2 separate regions of the Homo sapiens genome follow, and region 2 is linked to region 1. Evidence: fine-mapped expression QTL. A gene starts in region 1. The other region holds a variant in brackets. All regions are shown on one strand. Distances are between the middles of the regions.

Region 1 (5,328 bases):
AAAATAAACAATTATTTTAAAAATAAGGAGAAAAGAGGCTGGGCACAGTGGCTCACGCCTGTAATCCCAGCACTTTGGGAGGCCGAGGCAGGCAGATCACGAGGTCAGGAGATCAAGGCCATCCTGGCTAACACAAGGTGAAACCCCGTCTCTACTAAAAATACAAAAAAAAAAAAAAAAAAGCTGGGCATGGTGGCGGGCACCTGTAGTCCCAGCTACTCGGGAGGCTGAGGCAGGAGAATGGTGTGAACCCAGGAGGCGCAGCTTGCAATGAGCCGAAATAACACCACTGCACTCCAGCCTGGGTGACAGAGCAAGACTCCATCTCAAAAAAAAAACAAAAAAACAAAAAAAAGGAGTGGTTGGTGCAGAAACCCAATGAGTTCAATTTGAAACATCTTGGGTTTCAAATGTGCTATTTGGGTATTCAAGTTGAGAATGATGGAATATTATAAAATATTATTATTTATGCTAATATAATGGGAGAGAAATTATATTTCTAAAGGTATATATAACATTGGGAATTTTGAAAACATCTAGAAGCCCAAAAATGAAAAGTCACAAAAGGTAAAACCATTCTCATAAGAAGAATCCATGATTTTCTTTTTTTCCATTAGGAGAAGCCCTCACATTCAAATGCCCAGGATTTACTATTCTGAAACCTCTTCTCCCTTCTCCTCTCAAAACAATTCTCAGCAGATCCTTTGATATTTATAGAAAGGAAAAGACCATCTTTACCTTCAAAGAAGTTTATCAAAGTGCAGCACAGAAGGAAAGACCAAGAAAAGACAGATATCAAGCATTCAGAAAAGAGTGTTAATTCCAATTGTGTTTCCAAGGTCATTATTCAATTTGACCAGCATTTAGTAATCACCTAGTATTTTTTCGGGGCTCTGAAGTATACTCTTCAGGATATGAAATGTAAATAAAATACAATCTCTACAGTTAAGGAGGCTACAGGTAGGAAACAGGTTGTCAAAAAAGGCACAAGTAACAGAACATGAGACAAAATGAAGCAAAACTTACTTTGCTTCATTTGCCTATTTATGTATAAGCCTGAAGAGTCATGCAAACACGAGTGCTACAGAGATTCAAAAAGGGAAAAGACCATATCCAAATAGAAAGAGTGGGGATGCAAGATAGGAACCTGGAGACACACCTTAAGGAAATATAAGGGGTTAGTTGGCCACAGTAGATGTTCCAATCAGAGCAAACTAAAAAAAACTCATGCATTGCATTGGGGAAAACAGTTTCAATAGAACAAGGAGATGGAAATCAAACAAGTTGAGTGAAATGTGGTTAGTGAAAAAGTGGAAACGAGTATAAATTACGCTTTCTAAAAGTTTAATAGAACAACTGAAATATTTAAGAGATGGTGGAATACTAGGGGACTATTAAAAGAAATAATGTAGATAATGAAAACACACTGCCAGGGAAAGATAGTAAAAATGTCATTAAATTTCTTAAAACACATGGAACACAGAATACTTGCATGCACGTAATATCAAGCTTCAAGATATGTAAAGTAAAAAAAAGTACTCTCAGAAATTAACAAACTCATAATAATGATGTATTTTTGTTTCTTTTTATTTTTAGTTATTATTTAAAATAATTTTATTGTTATTTATTCATTTTTATTTTTAATTTTAATATGTACAGAAAGAATTGTACATATTTGTGAAGTACCTATGATACTTCAGTACACACATACAACGTGTAATGATAATTAGAGTAATCATAATGATTTCTAAACATCTCTCAGTAGTTAATAGAATAAGCACAACAAAATCAGTATGAGCTGACTCCAGTACAGGACTGGTGCTTATCCTTATTAATAATCAGATCAATACAAATTAAAAACAGAATTAGATATCTTTACACACGACCAGATTAAGAAGATTTTTAAAGTCTGCCAATTCCAAGCATGGGTGAGGATGTGGAGCAACGAGGACTCTCATACACTGCTGCTGGTAGGTGAAGCCATTCTGTGAAATTCCTTGGCCTTGCCTATTAAAGTTGAAGACTTTAATTCCACTCCTAGTCAAAAAATATTTAACAACCAGTACAGAAAGGAAACTCCATTTCTCACAAATGGCCATATACATGTGACTCCAGGGGAGTTCTGACCCACAGCACTGGAGGCCACAGCCACAGGAGGTCAGATGGACACTAGGTATTTATCTACTGGGGTTCCAGGGACTACTCTGTTTTAGGGGGACAGCCAGAGACCCAGAACCATCAGGGCTGGTTGATGGACTCACACATCAGGTGGGACAAAAAGAGTAGCTCCTTAGCAGTGACTAAATAGGGGCCCCCAGGGCTGCAACAGAGTTGAAGGGGAACTTGGGGATTTGGGATAGTGACTTTTTACCAAGCTGAATAAAAATACTTCAATATTTTGATAATTGGCATGGCCTTCATAGTGGGTACTGGCTGAATATCAGCTCTGAATTTTCTTTAAGGCAACTCAAGCATATGTGCAACCAAGTACATGAAAAGAATTTGTATGTAACCACTAATTCATCATAAGCAAAGAGGAAAAAAAACAGCAAAAAGGAAAATGGATGAATAAATTATGTTCAATTCATACACTGGAATATTCTAGAGTAATGAAAATAAGCTACAGCCACAGGCAATGTGAATGATTCTCACATAGAGTAGAGGGGAGAAAAAAGACATGAAACAATACATACACTATGATTCCATTCATAAAAAGGCTTTGCTAGATTAAACTATTGGATAGAGAAGCTTAAATAGGTAGTAAACCACTAAATATGCAAGGAAGTGATTATCAGGGTTGTGAAGGAGAAGAACAGGTAAGTTAAATGGGCGATTCTGAGGAGTAGAAATTTCCTTTACTTCATAATTATTTGTTAATTCATCTTTATATGTTTAATGGGCTTTTCTCTATTATTTTATATTTTTCAATAAAAGAAAAAAGAATTTAAAAAATCTTGGAGCTCACTGGGAGCAATGAGGTTTGCAGCTGAAGTCCAATAGTACAAATGATGTGGTAAGAGGCCGGCAGGGCTGTGAATTACAGCAACAAAGGAGAAAAGGAAGTGATTGGAGAATTAAGCAACATGAATGGTATTTATTCAAAGACAGCTCATTATAGGACACGGAACTCCCTGGGTAGGAGTTTGAAGCTTTCTTAACTCAGAAAGAAACTTCCAACACAGTTTCCCAAAGAAAAATGGGCACCAAGGGCAAAGTAAGCAAGTAAGCTGTATCTTTGTTCAGTTTGTGCTTTTCTGTGTCCTTGTATGTTTGGCTAAAAGGAGCTTCCTTCAGGAACTCAGGAAGCAGTGACTTACAGTTGATCAAAAGGATATGAGTGACCCCTATGCCAGGAATTTATTCTAGGGAAATTAACTGTGGATTGCCAAAATGTTTATTAGAAGGGTGTTCAGTTAATATTAATATTATTTAAATGGCCAAAAGAAGAGAGATTTAAGTAACTGTGCTGTAACCATAAAATATAATATGCATATGTTACAAATAATGTTGCAGGAGAATATGGGAAAATGTTCACAGTATATTAATAGTAGAAAAAGTATATTACAAAATACTATGGACAATGTATCTTATTTGGGGATACTCGAAGAATCTGCATCAAAAGCATAAAGTGGGTGATGAGCTTACAGATGAATCTTATTCTATTTTTTGTCTTTAAAAACTTGATAGGCCTTGGCATTTTGAAACTTCCTGTTAATTAATATATACTTCATTTGAAACAAAATAAATAATATTCAAAAACATAATTCAAAATTATGTAACTATTGAAAAATATACATTAATGTGGTCAAAGACTTTGGGAAAAGTATACCAAATGTAAGCATAGTAGTGTTAGAACAGAAGATTATAGGTTTGTTTCTTTCTACTTTCTTTCAATGTTGCTTATATTTGAAATTAAAAATATAATTTGAGGCTAGAAAAAATTGGGGTTATAGAATCCTAAATATTTAATTTCTGTTCATTCATCTTTACCCAAATTCTTACAATTAGATGAAATTTTTATTTAATTTATATCCTACAGATAAATTTAATAATGATGTAAGCCTCATTTCTCAGACTTTTAATGAATTCTCTGGGGATATTGTTCAAATGCAGATTTTGATTTAGTGGATTTGAGGCAGGGCTTTCATCTCTAACAAATTCCCAAGTGATGTGAATAAATGCTTGTCCGAGGACCACACTTCGAGTTGCAGAGATGTAAAACACATCTATTCTCCAGCAATTATCTGACTCAGGTAATTCAGAGGTGATTTCAAACAGTTCACTCAATAGATTTTTATAGGCCATCTACCTTATTCAAACTCCATAAATCTATTCTCTCTGTTATAGAGGGAAAAACTTGAGACATTATATCAAGGTAAACTTTAATACACCTGTTTTTTTTTCAAGAAATAAAAAATGTAATGACTATAATGTAGAATTTAACTTCTTATTTTTCTTTAAGATCCCTTGTCTTTAAAATAATATCTATAAGATCCAGCTACAAACTCTTTAACTCTTTGTCATGAAATTACAGTATCAATATATTCTAATTTTTTCTCATGATCTCCTCTCTCCTACCCCCAACCCTGTCAAAATCTCTATCTCTATCTCCCTCTTCCTTTTCTTTCTCTCTTTCAGGTTATTAAATGCAAAGCAGCCATCGCCTGGGAAGCAGGCAAGCCCCTTTGCATTGAAGAGGTTGAAGTAGCTCCCCCCAAGGCTCATGAAGTTCGCATTCAGGTAAGTGGAGACTTTCCTTGGGTGGGAACAGACAGGGCCCCAAGTGGAGACCTGGCTTCTGTCAGGTCAATCCTCTGTGCTATGATTCAGAGGCCTTGGAGTTTCTAGTACAGGGAAGCTGTATTTTTAGATTCAGTCAAAAACAGGCATTATCCCAAAAAGGAATAAATCATCCATTATTTTAGTAATTTTCAAATAATGGGCTTAAAATTTAATTGATCTTAACATTAATCATTTACCCTAAGAATCAGACAAAGGAATTCACTTTGGATTTGAATTAGTTAGGTTTTCTTTTTGCTTTCCAATTGCTAATTATTTGAAAGTGTTATTAAAAGGAAGATAGACAATTTGATCGAAAACAAGACAGAAGAAAAAACCTGACGTGCTGCCCTAGGCAGCCGAAGGGTCCTGGGTATCCAGAGGAAGGGACAGGAGTAGGTCACAGGGAGAAGAGAGTGCATGGAATGGAGTGAGATCACTGATGGCAAGTTTGGACAATTTCCCCATTTTTCCCAAGCTGACCAGGCTTATATTTTCCTTGAGGACCCCCACATTAAGAGTCTGTACATGAGAGTGAATGGGACATTC
Region 2 (5,381 bases), 100 kb before region 1:
TTTAACCCAAATAATGTCTTTATCCTTTCCCAAGTAATTCTCAAGGAAACCAAGCAAGTAAAAATTATGAACAAGAGTGTTCATCACAATATAATTTATAATAGCCAAAACAATAGAAATAATTCTATGTCTAGGTAATTACTGATTAAGCAAATCAGAACACATTCAAATGATAGACTGCAGGGGAGAGCTGGGCAAGATGGCCGAATAGGAACAGTTCCCGTCTGCAGCTCCCAGCGAGACAAACACAGAAGGCAGGTGATTTCTGGATTTCCAACTGAGGTACCCAGTTCAACTCATTGGGACTGGTTAGAGAGTGGGTCCAGCCCACAGAAGGCCAGCAGAAGCAGGGTGGGGTGTCACCTCAAGGAGAAGCACAAGGGGTCAGAGAACTCCTTCCCCTAGCCAAGGGAAGCCATGAGGGACTGTGCCATGAGGGACAGTGCTATCCAGCCCAGACATTACGCTTTTCCCATGGTTTTTGCAAACCACAGACCAGAAGATTTTCTCAGGTGCCTACACAACCAGGGCCCTGGGTTTCAAGCACAAAACTGGGTGGCCATTTGGCAGACACCGAGCTAGCTGCAGGAGATTTTTTTTCATAACCCAATGGTGCCTGGAACCCCAGCCAGACAGAACCGTTCACTCCCCTGGAACAAACCGTGGGGTCTGAAACCAGGGAGCCAAGTGGTCTGGCTTAGCAGGTCCCACTCCCACGGAGCCCAGCAAGCTAAGATCCACTGGCTGGAAATTCTTGCTGCCAGGAAAGCAGTCTGAAGTCAACCTGGGACACTCAAGCTTGGTCGGGGGAGGGTCGTCCGCCATTACTGAGGCTTGAGTAGGTGGTTTTTCCCTCACATTGTAAACAAAGCTGCCAGGAAGTTCGGACTGGGCAGAGCCCACTGCACCACAGCACAGCAAAGCCACTGTAGCCAGACTACCTCTATGGGCAGGGCATCTCTGAAAGAAAGGCAGCAGGCCCAGTCAGGGGCTTATAGAAAAAACTCCCATCTCTCTGGGACACAGCAGCTGGGGGGAGGGGCAACTGTGGGAGCAGCTTCAGCAGACTTAAACATTGCTGCCTACTGGCTCTGAAGAGAGCAGCAGATCTCCCAGCACAGTGCTCAAGCTCTGCTAAGGAACAGACTGACTCCTTAAATGGGTCCCTGACCCCCGTGCCTCCTAACTAGGAGACACCTCCCAGCAGGGGCCGACAGACATCTCATACAGGAGAGCTCCAGCTGGCATCTGGTGGGTGTCCTTCTGGGACAAATCTTCCAGAGGAAGGAGCAAGCAGCAATCTTTGCTGTTCTGCAGCCTCCACTGGTGATATCCAGGCAAACAGTGTCTAAAGTGGACCTCCAGCAAACTCCAGCAGACCTGCACCAGAGAGGCCTGACAGAAGGAAAACTAACAAAGAGAAAACAAAAACATCAGCATCAAAAGAAAAGTATGCCCACAGAAAAACCCCATCCAAAGTGCCTCAGCATCAAAGATCAAAGGTACATAAATCCACAAAGCTGAGGGGAAAAAAGCACAAAAATGCTGAAAATTTCAAAAACCAGAATGCCTCTTCTCCTCCAAAGGACCACAACTCCTCACCAGAAAGGGAACAAAACTGGATGGAAAATGAGTTTGATGAATTGAACAGAAGTACACTACAGAAAGTAGGTAATAACAAACGCCTCCAAGCTAAATAAGCATGTTCTGCCCCAAAGAAAGGAAGGTAAGAACCTGGATAAAAGGTTACGGGAACTGCACACTAGAATAACCAGTTTAGAGAAGAACAGAAATGACCTAATAGAGCTGAAAAACACAGCATGAGAACTTCGTGAAGCATACACAAGTATCAATAGCTGAATCAATCAAGCAGAAAAAAGGATATCAGAGATTGAAGATCAACTTAATGAAATAAAGCATGAAGACAAGATTAGAGAAAAAAAAAGAAGGAAAAGGAAATAACAAATCCTCCAAGAAATATGGGACTATGTGAAAAGACCAAACCTATGACAGATTGGTACACCTGAAAGTGAAGGGGAGCATGGAACCACGTTGAAAAACACACTTCAGGATATTATCCAGGAGAACTTCCCCAACCTAGCAAGACTGGCCAACATTCAAATTCAGGAAACACAGAGAACACCACTAAGATACTCCTCGAGAAGAGCAACCCCAAGACACATAATCATCAGACTCTCCAAGGTTGAAATGAAGGAAAAAATGTTAAGGGCAGCCAGAGAGAAAGGTCAGGTTACCCACAAAGGGAAGCCCATCAGACTAACAGCAGATCTCTCTGCAGAAGCCAGAAGAGAGTGGGGGACAATATTCAACATTCTTAAAGAAAACAATTTTCAACCCACAATTTCATATCCAGCCAAAATAAGTTTCATAAGCAAAAGAAAATAAAATCCTTTACAGACAAGAAAATGCTGAGGGGTTTTGTCACCACCAGGCCTGCCTTACGAGAACTCCTGAAGAAAGCACTAAATATAGAAAGGAAAAACTGGTACCAGCCACTGTAAAAACATACCAAAATATAAAGATGAACAAAACTGCATGAACTAATGTGGAAAATAACCAGCTAGAATCATGATGACAGGATCAAACTCACACATAATAATATTAACCTTAAATGTAAATAGGTTAAATGCTCCCAGTTCAAAGACACAGACTGGCAAATTGGATAAAGAGTGAAGACCCATTGGTGTGCTGTATTCAGGAGACCTATCTCATGTGCAAACACAGACATAGGCTCAAAACAAAGGGATGGAGGACAACTTACCAAGCAAATGGAAAGCAAACAAAAAAGGCATGGGTTGCCATCCTAGTCTCCGATAAGACAGACTTTAAAACAAGAAAGATCAAAAAAGACAAAGAAGGCCATTACATAATGGTAAAC[G/A]GATCAATGCAACAAGAAGAGCTAACTATCCTAAATATATATGCACCCAATATAAGAGCACCCAGTTTCATAAAACAAGTTCTTACAAACCTACAAAGAGACTTAGACTCCCACACAATAATATTGGGAGATTTTAACACCTCACTATCAATATTACACAGATCAACAAGACAGAAAATTGACAAGGATATTCAGACTTGAACTCAGCTCTGGACCAAGCAAACCTAATAGACATCTACAGAACTCTCCACCCCAAAACAACAAAATATACGTTTTTCTCAGCTCCTCATAGCACTTATTCTAAAACTGACCACATAATTGGAAGTAAAACACTCCTCAGCAAATGTAAATGAACAGAAATCATAACAGTCTCTCAGATCACAGTGCAATCAAATTAGAGCTCAGGATTAAGAAACTCACTCAGAACTCACAACTACATGGAAACTGAACAACCTGCTCCTGAATGACTGCTGGATAAATAATGAAATTAAGGCAGAAATAAATAAGTTCTTTAAAAACAATGAGAGCAAACACACAATATACCAGAATCTCTGGGATACAGCTAAAGCAGTGTTTAGAGGAAAATTTATAGCACTAAATCCCCACAGCAGAAAGTAGGAAAGATCTAAAATGACACCCTATCATCACAATTAAAAGAACTAGAGAAGCAAGAGCAAAAAAATTCGAAACGTAGCAGAAGACAAGAAATAACTAAGATCAAAGCAGAATTGAAGGAGATAGAGACACCAAAAACCCTTCCAAAAATCAATGAATCCAGGAGTTGGTTTTTTGAAAAGATCAACAAAATAGATAGACCACCAGCCAGACTAATAAAGAAGAAAAGAGAGAAGAATCAATAGACACGATAAAAAATGATAAAGGGAAAATCACCACTGATCCCACAGAAATAGAAACTACCATCAGAGAATATATAAACACCACCACACAAATAAACTAGAAAACCTGGAAGAAATGGATACATTCCTGGATACATACACTCCCTAAACACTAAACCAGGAAGAAGTTGAATCCCTGAATAGACCAATAACAACTTCAGAAATTGAGGCAGGAATTAATACTCTACCAACCAAAAAAAAACCCAGGTCCAGATAGATTCACAGCCTAATTCTACCAGAGGTACAAAGAGAAGCTTATACCATTCCTTCTAAAACTATTCCAAACAATAGAAAAAGAGGGAGTCCTCCATAACTCATCTTATGAGGCCAGCATCATCCTGATACCAAAACCTGGCAGAAACACAACAACAAAAAAAAGAAAATATCAGGCCAATATCCCTGATGAATATCGATGTGAAAATCTTCAATAAAATACTGGCAAACCAAATCCAGCAACACATCAAAAGGCTTATCTACCACAATCAAGTCAGCTTCATCCCTGGGATGCAAGTCTGGTTCAACATACACCAATCAACAAACGTAATCCATCACATAAACAGAACCAATGACAAAAACCACATGATTATCTCAATAGATGCAGAAAAGACTTTCGATAAAATTCAACACCGCTTCATGCTAAAAACACTCAAAAAACTAGATATTAACACAATATATCTCAAAAAATAGGAGATATTTATGACAAACCCACAGCCAATATCATACTGAATGGGCAAAAGCTGGAAGCATTCCCTTTGAAATTCAGCATAGGACAAGGATGCCCTCTCTCACCACTCCTATTTAACATAGTATTGGAAGTTCTGGCCAGGGCAATCAGGCAAGAGAAAGAAATAAAATGTATTCAAATAGGAAGAAAGGAAGTCAAATTGTCTCTGTTTGCAGATGACATGATTGTATATTTAGAAAGCCCCATCATCTCAGCCCAAAACCTCCTTAAGCTGATAAGCAACTTCAGCAAAGTTTCTGGATACAAAATCATTGTGCAAAAATCACAAGCATTCCTATACATCAATATCAGACAAACAAAGAGCCAAATCATGGGTGAACTCCCATTCACAATTGCTACAAACAGAATAAAATACCTATGAATACAACTTAAAGGGGATGTGAAGAACCTCTTCAAGGAGAACTACAAATCACTGCTCAAGGAAATAGGAGAATACACAAACAAATAGAAAAACATTCTGTGCTCATGGATAGGAAGAATCAATATCATGAAAATGGTCATACTGCCCAAAGTAATATATAGATTCAATGCTATTCCCATCAAGCTCCACTGACTTTCTTCACAGAATTAGAAAAACTACCTTAAATTTTATATGGAACCACAAAAGAGTCTGTATAGCCAAGACAATCCTAAGCACAAAGAACAAAGCTGGAGGCATCATGCTACCTGACTTCGAACTATACTACAAGGCTACAGCAACCAAAACAGCATGGTACTGGTACCAAAACAGACATATAGACCAATGGAACAGAAAAGAGACCTCAGAAATAACACCACACATCTACAACCATCTGATCATCAACAAACCTGACAAAAACAAGCAATGGGGAAAGGATTCCCT

What was found. PIP is the estimated chance that this variant, and not a neighbour inherited with it, causes the effect. A credible set is the group of variants that fine-mapping cannot tell apart.
Region 2: its variant is the best candidate, but not a certain one, in a credible set for the expression of ADH4 in lung (TOPMed, PIP 0.77).

The regions. Positions count from the first base shown.
Region 1 is chr4:99,142,091-99,147,418 of GRCh38, reverse strand. ADH4 (alcohol dehydrogenase 4 (class II), pi polypeptide) reads left to right here and starts at 3,122. Exons shown (of 9, transcript NM_000670.5): 1 at 3,122-3,214; 2 at 4,639-4,740. The coding sequence starts at 3,197. All of the region lies in intron 2 of LOC100507053 (a long non-coding RNA gene), which reads right to left. RefSeq lists a promoter at 2,828-3,150.
Region 2 is chr4:99,243,474-99,248,854 of GRCh38, reverse strand. All of the region lies in intron 4 of LOC100507053 (a long non-coding RNA gene), which reads right to left. Among named protein-coding and RNA genes, the nearest start is that of ADH6, 27 kb to the right of the region's middle. The variant G/A (reference allele first, on the strand shown) is at 2,900.